3 linked regions of the Homo sapiens genome follow. The protein of the gene in region 3 purifies or fractionates together with the protein of the main gene of each other region. This does not show direct contact. Each region holds a gene or a part of one and is shown on either strand. Other genes may lie near its edges. The genes, in order: PKP1, NEFH and GPATCH2L.

The links.
Region 1: the proteins of GPATCH2L (region 3) and PKP1 purify together in Homo sapiens (affinity purification with mass spectrometry; one large-scale study listed by BioGRID and IntAct). This does not show direct contact.
Region 2: the proteins of GPATCH2L (region 3) and NEFH purify together in Homo sapiens (affinity purification with mass spectrometry; 2 studies listed by BioGRID and IntAct, with this or other methods). This does not show direct contact.

Annotation. Positions count from the first base shown.
Region 1 is NC_000001.11:201,286,362-201,290,012, reverse strand, and holds part of PKP1 (plakophilin-1), read right to left. Parts: intron 1-3,651. UniProt on the Homo sapiens protein: A component of desmosome cell-cell junctions which are required for positive regulation of cellular adhesion.
Region 2 is NC_000022.11:29,486,718-29,490,368, reverse strand, and holds part of NEFH (neurofilament heavy polypeptide), read right to left. Parts: intron 1,521-3,651; coding exon 1-1,520. UniProt on the Homo sapiens protein: Neurofilaments usually contain three intermediate filament proteins: NEFL, NEFM, and NEFH which are involved in the maintenance of neuronal caliber. NEFH has an important function in mature axons that is not subserved by the two smaller NF proteins.
Region 3 is NC_000014.9:76,172,321-76,175,971, forward strand, and holds part of GPATCH2L (G patch domain-containing protein 2-like), read left to right. Parts: exon of another isoform or gene 1-1,225; coding exon 1,226-1,305; exon of another isoform or gene 1,306-3,200; intron 3,201-3,651.

The sequences.
Region 1 (3,651 bases), on a different chromosome or scaffold from region 3:
GAAATCTCTCTCCAGTAGGGGCAGGTGAGCCTTTGCAGGGATGACTCATCCTCTTCCACCTCCAAGCTTTCAAATAGGTCACACTTACTGCACCTGAAACATTCTTTCTCTTCTTCTCCAACCCTCCCCCTGCATTCAAAACCTTGCACAAAAATCAGCTTCTCCTAAAGATGACCGCACCCAGCTCTGAGCACTCCAAACTTGCCAGCATAACCATGTCAGCACTCAATCCAGCGGCTGACTCTGCACTGGCTTGTGGGCTCCTTGGAATGTGGCTTCTGTACACTGTGTGTGTGTGTGTGTGTGTGTGTGTGTGTGTGTGTGCACTCCTCCCAGAAGGTAGGGCCTGGGTCTCCCCAACCAAGCTGGGAGCTCCCTGAAGCAAGGAATCTTCACCTTTGGTAGATCCACACTCCACACCCCCAATCCCAGGCCCAGGTTCTACATAGAGAAGGCTCTCAGGACATCAGCCTTCCTGCAGACAGAGGTCATAGGGAAATCCGCTTTTTCCACTTTCCCTCCCCTCAAATCCTTCTCCTTCGTCACAGGGCAAGCTGCTCGGAACACATTCTTGCTTACTCTGTCTCCCTTAAGGCCGATGCTTCTTCTAGCATATTCTACTTTTGAATAAAGCCCACCTGTCCTTCAGCATGAAAAGCTTGAGAAAGGAAGCTCATTTTCTTTTAGTCTTGAAAATGCCTTTACTTCACCCTCTGAAATCTCTTTCACCCATGGTGCCCAGAAAAGCTAGGCCCACAGCAATAGGAATTTAAATGAGATAACAAGAACTGCCAGGAAGCTACTGCTGAGAGAATACCCTCAGAGGTGTTTCGGAGTGGGCAGGAGTGGACTGTGTCTGCGGGATGGTTCCAGCTCCTGGAGGGAGGACTGGGCTGGCCAGCCTCCTGCCCCCTCTGCTGGGCTGCTGGGAGCACCGTGGACATGCCTCCCCAACTCGGCAGCTTCTAGGAGATGGGGAGGGCAAGGAGTTCAGCACAGCCTCACCGGGCACTTTGGTGTGGCTCTTGACCTTTTCCTGGGTGTACGTACTGAACAGAAATGCTGAAACAAACTGGGTTGCTGTGGCCTGTGTTCTCTCTTCTCCCTCTCCAGCCCATGTGACTCCCTCAGGCTCTGCTGGGACGCGTTCAGACCTAGCTCTGCCACAATCCTGCTGCTCTTTCAGCAGATCTGTTCATGGCCACCACCAAGCCTGAGGACTGGGCAGAGCATGGGAGCATCCTGTGGGGACAGGATGGGCGTGAGGGGGCAGGGTGGTGGGTTAGAGTGGGCAAGGGTTGACGGGTTCAGGTGGGGTTCAGAGTCAAAGGCTCTCGCCAGCAACTACTACATTAAGTGTGCGTGTGTGTGTGTGTATGAGAGAAAGACATGGGTGTATGTCATTGTATAGGGGTGCTCCCCCATGCTGGATCTGTGTGAGTGAAGGACAGGGACTAGAACAGTGGTTCTCCAACTTGGCTACACATGAGAATCACCTGGGAGTTTCTGAAGTCCTGATGCCCGTGCCATCTTTCATACTCACTAAGTCAGAATCTCTGGGGGTGGGACTCACGCATTTGTGTTGTTTGAAATTTCCAGGTGATTCCAATATGTAGCCAAGTTTGAGAAGAGTGGATGAGAAGACTTTTTAATATGTTAGGATGTTTACGAGAGAGACACGATGAGTGGCATGCCTTAAGGGGAAGAGCTTTTTGGCAGAACAGCTGCTGGCGGTCTGGGCAAATGGTTTGCAGAGCTAGAGAGTTATAAAATCTATTTCCAAAGAGTGTTCCCATTGCAAAGCACTTTGGAGATGATCTAATCCAACCTCTGACAGCTGCAGAGACCCAAAGAGAGGCAGCGACTTGTCCAAGATCGCACACCAGGTAGATGCCAGGCTGGGCTCCTGACACAGCACAGCTGCAAGGACACACATGTACACACACATAACATAAGTGTGTGCATGTTATGTGTGTGTACGTGTGTGCATGTGTGGGTGTGTGGATTCATGTGTGGGGTGTATTGTGTATACATGCATATATGCATGTGTGACCTATGTGTGTATACATGTGTGCGCATGTGTCCAGCGTATGCCTAGAAGGAACTTCACATGAAGATATCTAACATTCGTCCATTTTATTTTGTTCAAACATTACACATCTTGTAAGGGTCACGGCCCATCGCAGAAGCGCTTCCCAGATTTCTAAACCTAGAACAATTGGCACAATGATACTTACAATGGTATGGGGTCGGGGGAGGAATTTGTACTTTTAAAAAATCTCTGTCAAGGAGCAGGATCCAGAGAAGCAGCATTTGCTGCAAAACACCCTAGAATACCCAGCATTTTTGCATGTGTTGTAACAGGCCAACGGAAATTCTGGCTAAAACTCCAACTTCAAGCCAAGGTACATTGTAAAGAAACAAGAATTGGTTCATTTGAAGTTTAATTGGTATGTTTCGCCAATGGAACAAGCTAAAGCACACATAGCCATTACCATCTGCAATCTCAGCTTCGGTCCCAAGAAAACAACCCCAGAAGTGATGCCTGTGGTCAGGAAAGGACAACTTTCTAGAAACTCTAATGAGCAGAACACTCGGGCAGAAGCTCATGCTGAGACATAGTCAAACACAAATACAAAAAGCCATCAAAGTGGGGGCTCCTGAGGCGAGCTCCTTCACTGTGCAGGCTGCGGAGTTCGTACAAGCATGCCCCCCTCTCCCCTGATGAGGGCTGAATAGACACAGGAACTACAGAAAGGGAGCAGGCACCTCCCCTGGCTCAATGTTGCCTCCAGCCCCTACCTCTGATCAGAGAGAAATAGAGGCTTAGCAATTTTAGATGGGAAACAGTACTTCTATGAAGAAGGGAGAAAGAGAATTTCAGGCCAAAGGCTGAAATAAAAAATCACAGATGGCTAAGCAGGCAGTGAGACAAAGCAGGCAATGGTGCTGGTGTTGTTAGGACTTCCCTGGAAGGAGACAGGACAGGTGAAAGGAAGCTCCTTTCACTGAGCTGGGTGTGATCTGTATTCACAGTGGCGGGGGAGCGCTTGGGTTAGGGCAAGTGAGATTCAGGTTCAGCTTTAGGAAGAGATTCCAAGTGAAGTTATAAAGATCTGGAAGGTGGATAAGTGTTTCCTTCCCCATCCTCAGGGAGGTCATTTCCCTGGCAAAGATCTTTTGCTGGGTGGTGACATCCCCCTCAGTTTCCCCTTGCCTTCCACACAGTCTGGGAAGAAAAGGAGGCCAGACACCCTGAGGCACACAGGGACAGCCTGAAAACACAGGGGAGCAATACTTCAGGGGCAGTTCAAGATGGGTAGGCAGGTTCAGAGCAACCTCCTTCTGCAAGGTCTCCAGGCCACAGAAGCCACCTTCTTCCTGCCCGGGGCCTTCATGACCAGGGCAAGGTGCTTGTCTGATCTGTGGCATTTCAGGGAGAGCATGAGTGCAGACAGGCATTTTGTGACAGGCTCCAGGGGCCCTTCCTCCAGTCCTCAGTGGCTCAATACTCCCTCAGTGACAAGAGAGAAAAGAGCACTAGTGGAGAGGAACTGAGAAGCCACTTCTATCACAGGACCAAGGATGGCTGGTCCTGACTGTCCTTCCTGGGGTACAAGGAGCAGTGGCTACTCTTCCAGGCAACCTGTG
Region 2 (3,651 bases), on a different chromosome or scaffold from region 3:
CCTCCTTCTCTGGGGTGGGGACTTTTTTCTTATCTTCAGCCTCTTCCTTCTTGGCTTCAACTTTGGATTCTTTGGGCTTTTCGACAGCAGGTTCCTTCTTCTCCTCCACCTTGGGCTTTGGAGCCTCCTTCTTGGGTGCCTCCTCTTTCTTGCTGTCCTTCTTCTCCTCTGTTTTTGGTGTGGCAGGGGCTTTCTCTTCCTCTGCCTTCTTTGGGGGCTCTTTGACTTTCACCTCCTGGGGCTTCTCCTCCTCCTTCACTGGGGACTTCACCTCTTCCTTTTTTGGGATCTCCTTCTCAGGGGCCTTGGCATCCTCCTTCAGGGGAGATTTCGCCTTCTCTGGGGACTTGACCTCCTCCTTGACAGGGCTTTTGGCCTTTTCAGGGAATTTGTCTGCAGGGGACCTTGCTTCCTCCTTCGCTGGAGTCTTGGCTTCTGGAGACTTCACATCAAGAGTCTTGGCCTTCTCTGGGGACTTGGCCTTCTCTGGGGACTTAGCTTCTTCCTTCACTGGGGACTTGGCCTTCTCGGGGGTCTTTGCTTCTTCCTTCACTGGGGACTTGGCCTTCTCAGGGGACTTTGCTTCTTCCTTCACTGGGGACTTGGCCTTCTCAGGGGACTTTGCTTCTTCCTTCACTGGGGACTTGGCCTTCTCAGGGGACTTTGCTTCTGCCTTCACTGGGGACTTGGCCTTCTCAGGGGACTTTGCTTCTGCCTTCACTGGGGACTTGGCCTTCTCAGGGGACTTGGCCTCTTCCTTCTCTGGGGACTTGGCCTTCTCAGGGGACTTTGCTTCCTCCTTCGTTGGAGACTTGGCCTTTTCCGGGGACTTGACCTCAGCTGGAGATTTTGCTTCTTCCTTCACTGGGGACTTGGCCTCAGCCGGTGACTTTGCTTCTTCCTTCACTGGGGACTTGGCCTTCTCTGGAGACTTGGCCTCAGCCGGTGACTTTGCCTCTTCCTTTGCTGGGGACTTGGCCTTCTCGGGGGACTTGACCTCAGCTGGAGATTTTGCTTCCTCCTTCTCTGGGGACTTGGCCTCAGGCGGTGACTTTGCCTCTTCCTTTGCTGGAGACTTGGCCTTCTCAGGGGACTTGACTTCGGCTGGGGATTTTGCTTCCTCCTTCTCTGGGGACTTGGCCTCAGCCGGTGACTTTGCCTCTTCCTTTACTGGTGACTTGGCTTCCTTCTCTGGGGATGCAGCCTCTTCTGCTGGGGGAGACTTTGTTTCTTCTTCTCCCCCTTCTGCCTCCTCTTCTTCACCCCCTTCTTCCTCCTTGCCCTCCTCCTCTTTGGCCTCTTTCTCCTCTTCTTCAGTCACTTCTTCAGTCACTTGGGTCTCCTCTGTCTGTTCCTCCACAATCACAGTTTCTTTCTCAGACTTCTCCACCACTTTGATCTTCTCTTCGCTTTTCACCTTTATGTGAGTGGACACAGAGGGAATTTTGGGGAGTCCTTCTGGAAGCGAGAAAGGAATTGGGCCAAAGCCAATCCGACACTCTTCACCTTCCAGGAGTTTTCTGCAGGATGGATCACGGAACACATTAGTATAAACTCAGGGCAAATTCACTATTTGGGTTCTTCCTAGACTATCCTGAAGGTCACTGACATCGAATGATATGGGTTTTGGTGGAACAGGAATGTGAATGGTGGGCATTATGAGACTAGAGAAAGTCACTTGGCAAATCATTCCAGTGACCACCCAGAATGTGTACCCCGGTGGGACTGGTCTTTTTTTGTTGATGTTGTTGTTTTTGAGAGGGTCTCACTGTGTTGCCCAGGCTGGAACAGCTGGTCTTCTTCAACACAGCTAAGCCTGAAACTTTTGAAATAAAACAACTTTTGCCCCATAAAAAATGGCCCTCAAGAGAAAGCTCCTAAATAAATTTAACAAAAGTTAAATTTATTGTCCCTCAAACTAAAATATTATTCAAGAGAACCCTGGGAGCCTGAGCAAACAATTCCACTTTTTTTTTTCCTTTTTTTGAGACGGAGTCTTGCTCTGTCACCTAGGCTGGAGTCCAGTGGTACAATCTCAGTTCACTGCAACCTCTGCCTCCCAGATTCAAGCAATTCCCCCAGCTTCAAGCAATTCTCCTGTCTCAGCCTACTGAGTAGCTGGGAGTACAGGCGCACGCCACCACGTCCAGTTAATTTTTGTATTTTTAGTAGAGACGGGGGTTTCACCATATTGGTCAGGCTGGTCTCGAACTCCTGACCTCAGCCGATCCACCCGCCTAGGCCTCCCAAAGTGCTGGGATTACAGGTGTGAGCCACCGCACCCGACCACAATTCTACTTTTATAAATTTGGGTTTAAGAGGTCTTAGAACGCTCCCATTTGAATCGCGAGTGTCTCTCATCACCCTGTATTACCATCTTTTGAGTTTCAGGAATAGGGTAGAGGCCGCAGTTTCTCCTCTTGGCTTTGCTCCTCACTAGATGGGTGACCTTGGCCAAGACACACCAACTCTTTGAGCCTCAATTTCCTCACTGGAAAAAGAGGGTCATTAGAGTCCCTACGTCAGAGGGTTGTTTCAGTGAGACAATGAATGGAAAAGACTTGGCAGAATGCTTGTCTCAGAGTAAGTGTGGGGGTTACCCCTCAGACTAGTACTTCCCAAATTTAGCAGCACACAGATGACCGGGGATCTTATCAAAATGCAGATTCTGATTCAGCAGGTCTGGGGAGGGGCTGAGCGTCTGTCTTTTGTTGTTGTTGTGTTGTTGTTATTTTTGAGACAGTGTCTCACTCTGTGATGACAGGCTGGAGTGCAGTGGCACGATCATAGCTCACTGAAGCCTCCAACTCCCAGGCTCAGGTGATCCTCCCACGTCAGCCTCCTGAGTAGCTGAGACTAAAGGCATGTGCCACCATGCCCAGCTATTTTTTTTTTTTTTGTATTTTTTGTAGAGATGGGGTTTTGCCATGCTGCCCAGCTTGGTCTCTGAACTGAAACAATCTGTCTGCCTTGGTCTCCCAAAGTGCTGGGATTACAGGCATGAGTCACTACACCCAACCAAGAGACTATCTTTCTGATAAGCTCTTGAATGATGCCAATTCTGCTGGTTCATGTGCCATGCTTTGAGTAGCAAGATTACAGACGAGAGCCAAGAGGTAGGAAGCCACAGGTCACCAGTCAGAACTGGGACAAGTCCTCAGGGAATCAGTCCTGCTCCCTAGCCCTGCTCCCCCCGGTCTTATTCCTCAGACTGGATTTCTCAAGGCTGCCACTGACTAAGGGTTCCCTCTGTAGCAGCCCAGTGGTACCTGTGCTTCCTGGATTAGCTTGGGAATGGGATTAGCTCATCTTCCTGACAACCCTATGACATGGTTGCCCTTATTATCATCTCCACTTTATATCCCCAAGAAATGAATGCTTGCAGAGCTAAGAAACTCTAAAGGACAGAGTTTGAAAGGTCCCTGACTCAAGCACCTCTTTTCCCTTCAAAGCAGGCCTCTGGCTGGCTGGATCTGGGGAGGGGATAAGGAACTTCCACCGTCTAAATCATTTCAGAATGAAAGTAAGTCACTCTCAAGACTCATTGGCTGGGCACAGTGGCTCACGCCTGTAATCCCAGCACTTTGGGAGGCCGAGGTAGGCGGATCACCTGAGGTCAGGAGTTCGAGACCAGCCTGGCCAACATAGCGA
Region 3 (3,651 bases):
GGTTATTGAGTATCGGATTTTGGAAGAGAACAGATTTCAATAAGAACATTCACATACATATTCTTATTTTCAGTAAGAGTATTCACATATAATGGTGTTTTTAAAACGGATGCTTTTAAAATAATTTAAGTAGTTTTATTTTAATGACCCTATTGGGACTTTAACACAAATATGTTTCCTTTTCCCTTTGCTTTTTCTTCAATTATGATGTAGCAAAGTGGGTGGAAAGAACCTAGGACAGAGAGATGGAAATGTGGTGCTAATACTCTGATACTGTCTACCAAGCTCTGTGATAGTCACTGCATTTTCCTGGGATGACAGGGTCATCACTTACGATATGTGACATTGGACAAAACCATTTCTTTTAGCACTATAAATTTATGATTCTAGGGTTCCCAGTAACCCATAATCAACCAGTTAATCAGTTGCCAAGAGTTTGTTGAACATCTGTGGGTGATCAGAATCACACTACGAGATGTAAACTTGTATTATGTAGGATTTTGTCATGGTGAATTTTTGTTTGTCATGGTGAATTTTTGTCATGGCGAACCAGCAGTTGGTGCTTGGTAAAGACTAGCTGAGGCACACATTGCTTTATTGAACATTTTGATGAACATTTCTAAAAGTTTCTAATGGACCACTTAAAATATATACAAACAAGCAAGAATAGTGAGAAGAAACTTAAAATGGCCTATAATCTCATATCCAGAGACAATCTCATTAATAACATTTTGGTGTGGTTTCCTCCAGTTGTTCTTTCCTTGTGTAGAACACATGCAGCAGTGAGAAAAATTGGGTTATCCGACACGTGCTATTTTCCCCATTATGTCATGAATTAGAATGTTTTTGACGTACAAACTAACATTTAATTTTAAATTAAAAATTATTAATAGTACCTTATGTTTGTGTGGTGTTTTCAGTTTATAAAGTCCCTTCTGCTTGCTATTTCATTGGGTCTTCAAAACAGCCCAGTAAGGTAGGACTGAGTGATTATCCCTCTTTTATAGATGGAGGATGCCTAGGTCAAAGGTAAATGGCATGCCTGTGATCATACTGCTAGTGACAAAGACCTGGGAATAATAAATCCTTGGCAAATAGCTCTGTGATGCTAGTTTAAAGGTCAATCTATTAAGATCCTGGGGGTAAAGCCTTCAGTGTACTAGAAACATAGGATTGCATATGGATTTTCTGCATTCGGTATCTGAGGCCTTCCTTCTTTTTTTAGGGTACCATACTCGCTTGAATCGTCTACCTGGAGCTGCAGCTCGATGCCTCAGAAAGGGGCGAAGAAGGCTGGTTGGGAAGGTGATACCTCTCACAGTTAGCTTGGCTCAGTGGGGAGATAATATTCCCTATGGGAGTTGTGTATCCTATTAACAATCAGAGGTGCTACAGAACTCCCTGAAGTTAATGGAGCCAACTGGAATGTGTTGGGAGTTTACAAGAGTGAACATTATGTAGAATGTGAATGGATATACAAATAAAAGATGAAACGTAATTCATATAGAAGTACTGACAAAAAAAAAAAACACTGTCATTACAGTGTCTATTGCCTGTAAACCTACAAGCCTGAGCTGTGTCTTCTGTAACTTTTGATTAATGTTATGTTATTATTGTGTAAGTTAAAATACTCTTGGCTTCTTTATGACTCCTCTTGAATTCATGAATGCATCTTTGTTCTTTCCTAATTTTGGTCTTTCATCCTAGAATTCATTAAAAAAAAAAAACAAAACTGTTACTGAGTTTCAAGAGCCCCTCCTTGGCCATGAGGGAGAACTATCTGCTGTTTATTCAGTTCTGCCTTTGCCAGGGATGGTACTAGGGACTCAGCTCATTTAATCCTTCCAGCAACCTACAAGGGCAAGCACCTTCAGCAGATGAGGAAAACTTAGGTTCGAAGAAGTTAAGGAATGTCTGATGTTACCCAGATAGGAATGGTAGAATAGAGATTTGAACCCAGGTCTACTTTTATCTTTTTACATTTTTATTGAATTTTATTTTTTACTCTACTTTGAGATTGAGGAATAAATTAAGACAGGGCTCATCCTCAGTCAGAGAAGATGGTGGTGGGCAAAGAATAAGGAAGGGAGAGGCATTGAGAGCATTAATTTGTTTGTTCACTTGGTAAGCATTTAGAATGCCTGCTAGGTGGCACAATATGTGCCACAGTCTGGCTTCCCTTAAGGGGATACTGTTTTATAGTCTGACCAGGGAACAGTTTTCTGAAGTTTTAAGCATGCAAAAGAAATGAGACTGTTTATTTCCAGACGAGCCCAAGATTCTTATTTCTTTTTATCTTTAAATTCAAGTTCAAATCTTTTTTTTTTTTTTGAGATGGAATCTCGCTCTGTGACCTAGGCTGGAATGCAATGGTGCGATCTCGGCTCACTGTAACTTCCTGCCTTCCAGGTTCAAGCAATTCTCCTGCCTCAGCCTCCCAAGTAGCTGGGATTACAGGCGCCCCACCATGCCTGGCTAATTTTTTTGTATTTTTAGTACAGATGGGGTTTTACCATGTTGGCTAGGCTGGTCTCAAACCCCTGACCTCAGGTGATCCACCCGCCTCGGCCTCCCAAAGTTCTGGGATTACAGGCATGAGCCACCGTGCCCGGCCTCAAGTTCAAATCTTGAATTAGAAGACATTTGATTATTGGAAAACTGATACCTTTCAAATTACTCATTTTACAGACAAAACGCTGCTTTTTCTGTTTTGGGAGCTTATTGTTAACAGGGATAGCTAGCAGAATAGCAGTACATGGGGTGGAAGAAGGAGAGGTTTTACTTTTATTGTTTAGGCTTGACAGATAATGTTCCCCCTGCCACCTGTGTTACTTTCTTTCAGCTCTTATAAAATAAGAGCCATCCACTTCCATGGAAACAAGTCACTTTATCTTGAAGGTTTCCCTTTAGCTTGCCTGGAAGGGAGTGAGGGCCTGTTGGATGTGCCTTTAATGATTTCAAATGAATAGGATAATATTTACTTGTTTAATTCATCTTCATCACCTTAAAGGGATATTTATCATTTCTAGAAGAGGTCACCGCTCTGCCCCCCTTCTTCCCCCTCCCCCATCTCTCTTCTGCTTTTCTAAATTGTAATCATAAATAATGAGTTTCATTCACAGCTCCCTGCCAGTGAGCTGCTAATTACACAAAGTACTGCTTGTAATTTACACAGTAATAAACTGTAAATTTAAACATTACGGCACTTTAAGTTAATAATTTTTCTGCTGTAACAAATAGCTCATTTTTCACCCATCTTTTCCCTTGGCCCCCCTACCATGTCTGTCTGTGACCAGGAGGCATAGCTATAAGAAATGCAGAACATGAAGAATATAGTATATGAAAACTTCTCATTTAACTCCACTACCGCCCGGACTCTGACCTCAGAGTAATTTTTCTACAGCCAGTTCTGCTGAAATGTGTAGCCTGATGTTTAGCACGGTCCACACACATAGATGAATATAGACACAAATGTGTTTGAAGAACAGCCTTGATGTTCTTGGCATTCACGCCCGTGACTTGTGTTCTCTCAACACAACAGTTACTCAGATGTGTGTTGGTATGCTTTCCCAGGTGCCATGGTAGGTAAGCATTGTGAATGTACTCAAGTTAAATGAAGAGTGAATTGCCGTTTTCCAATTTTTTGGAAAT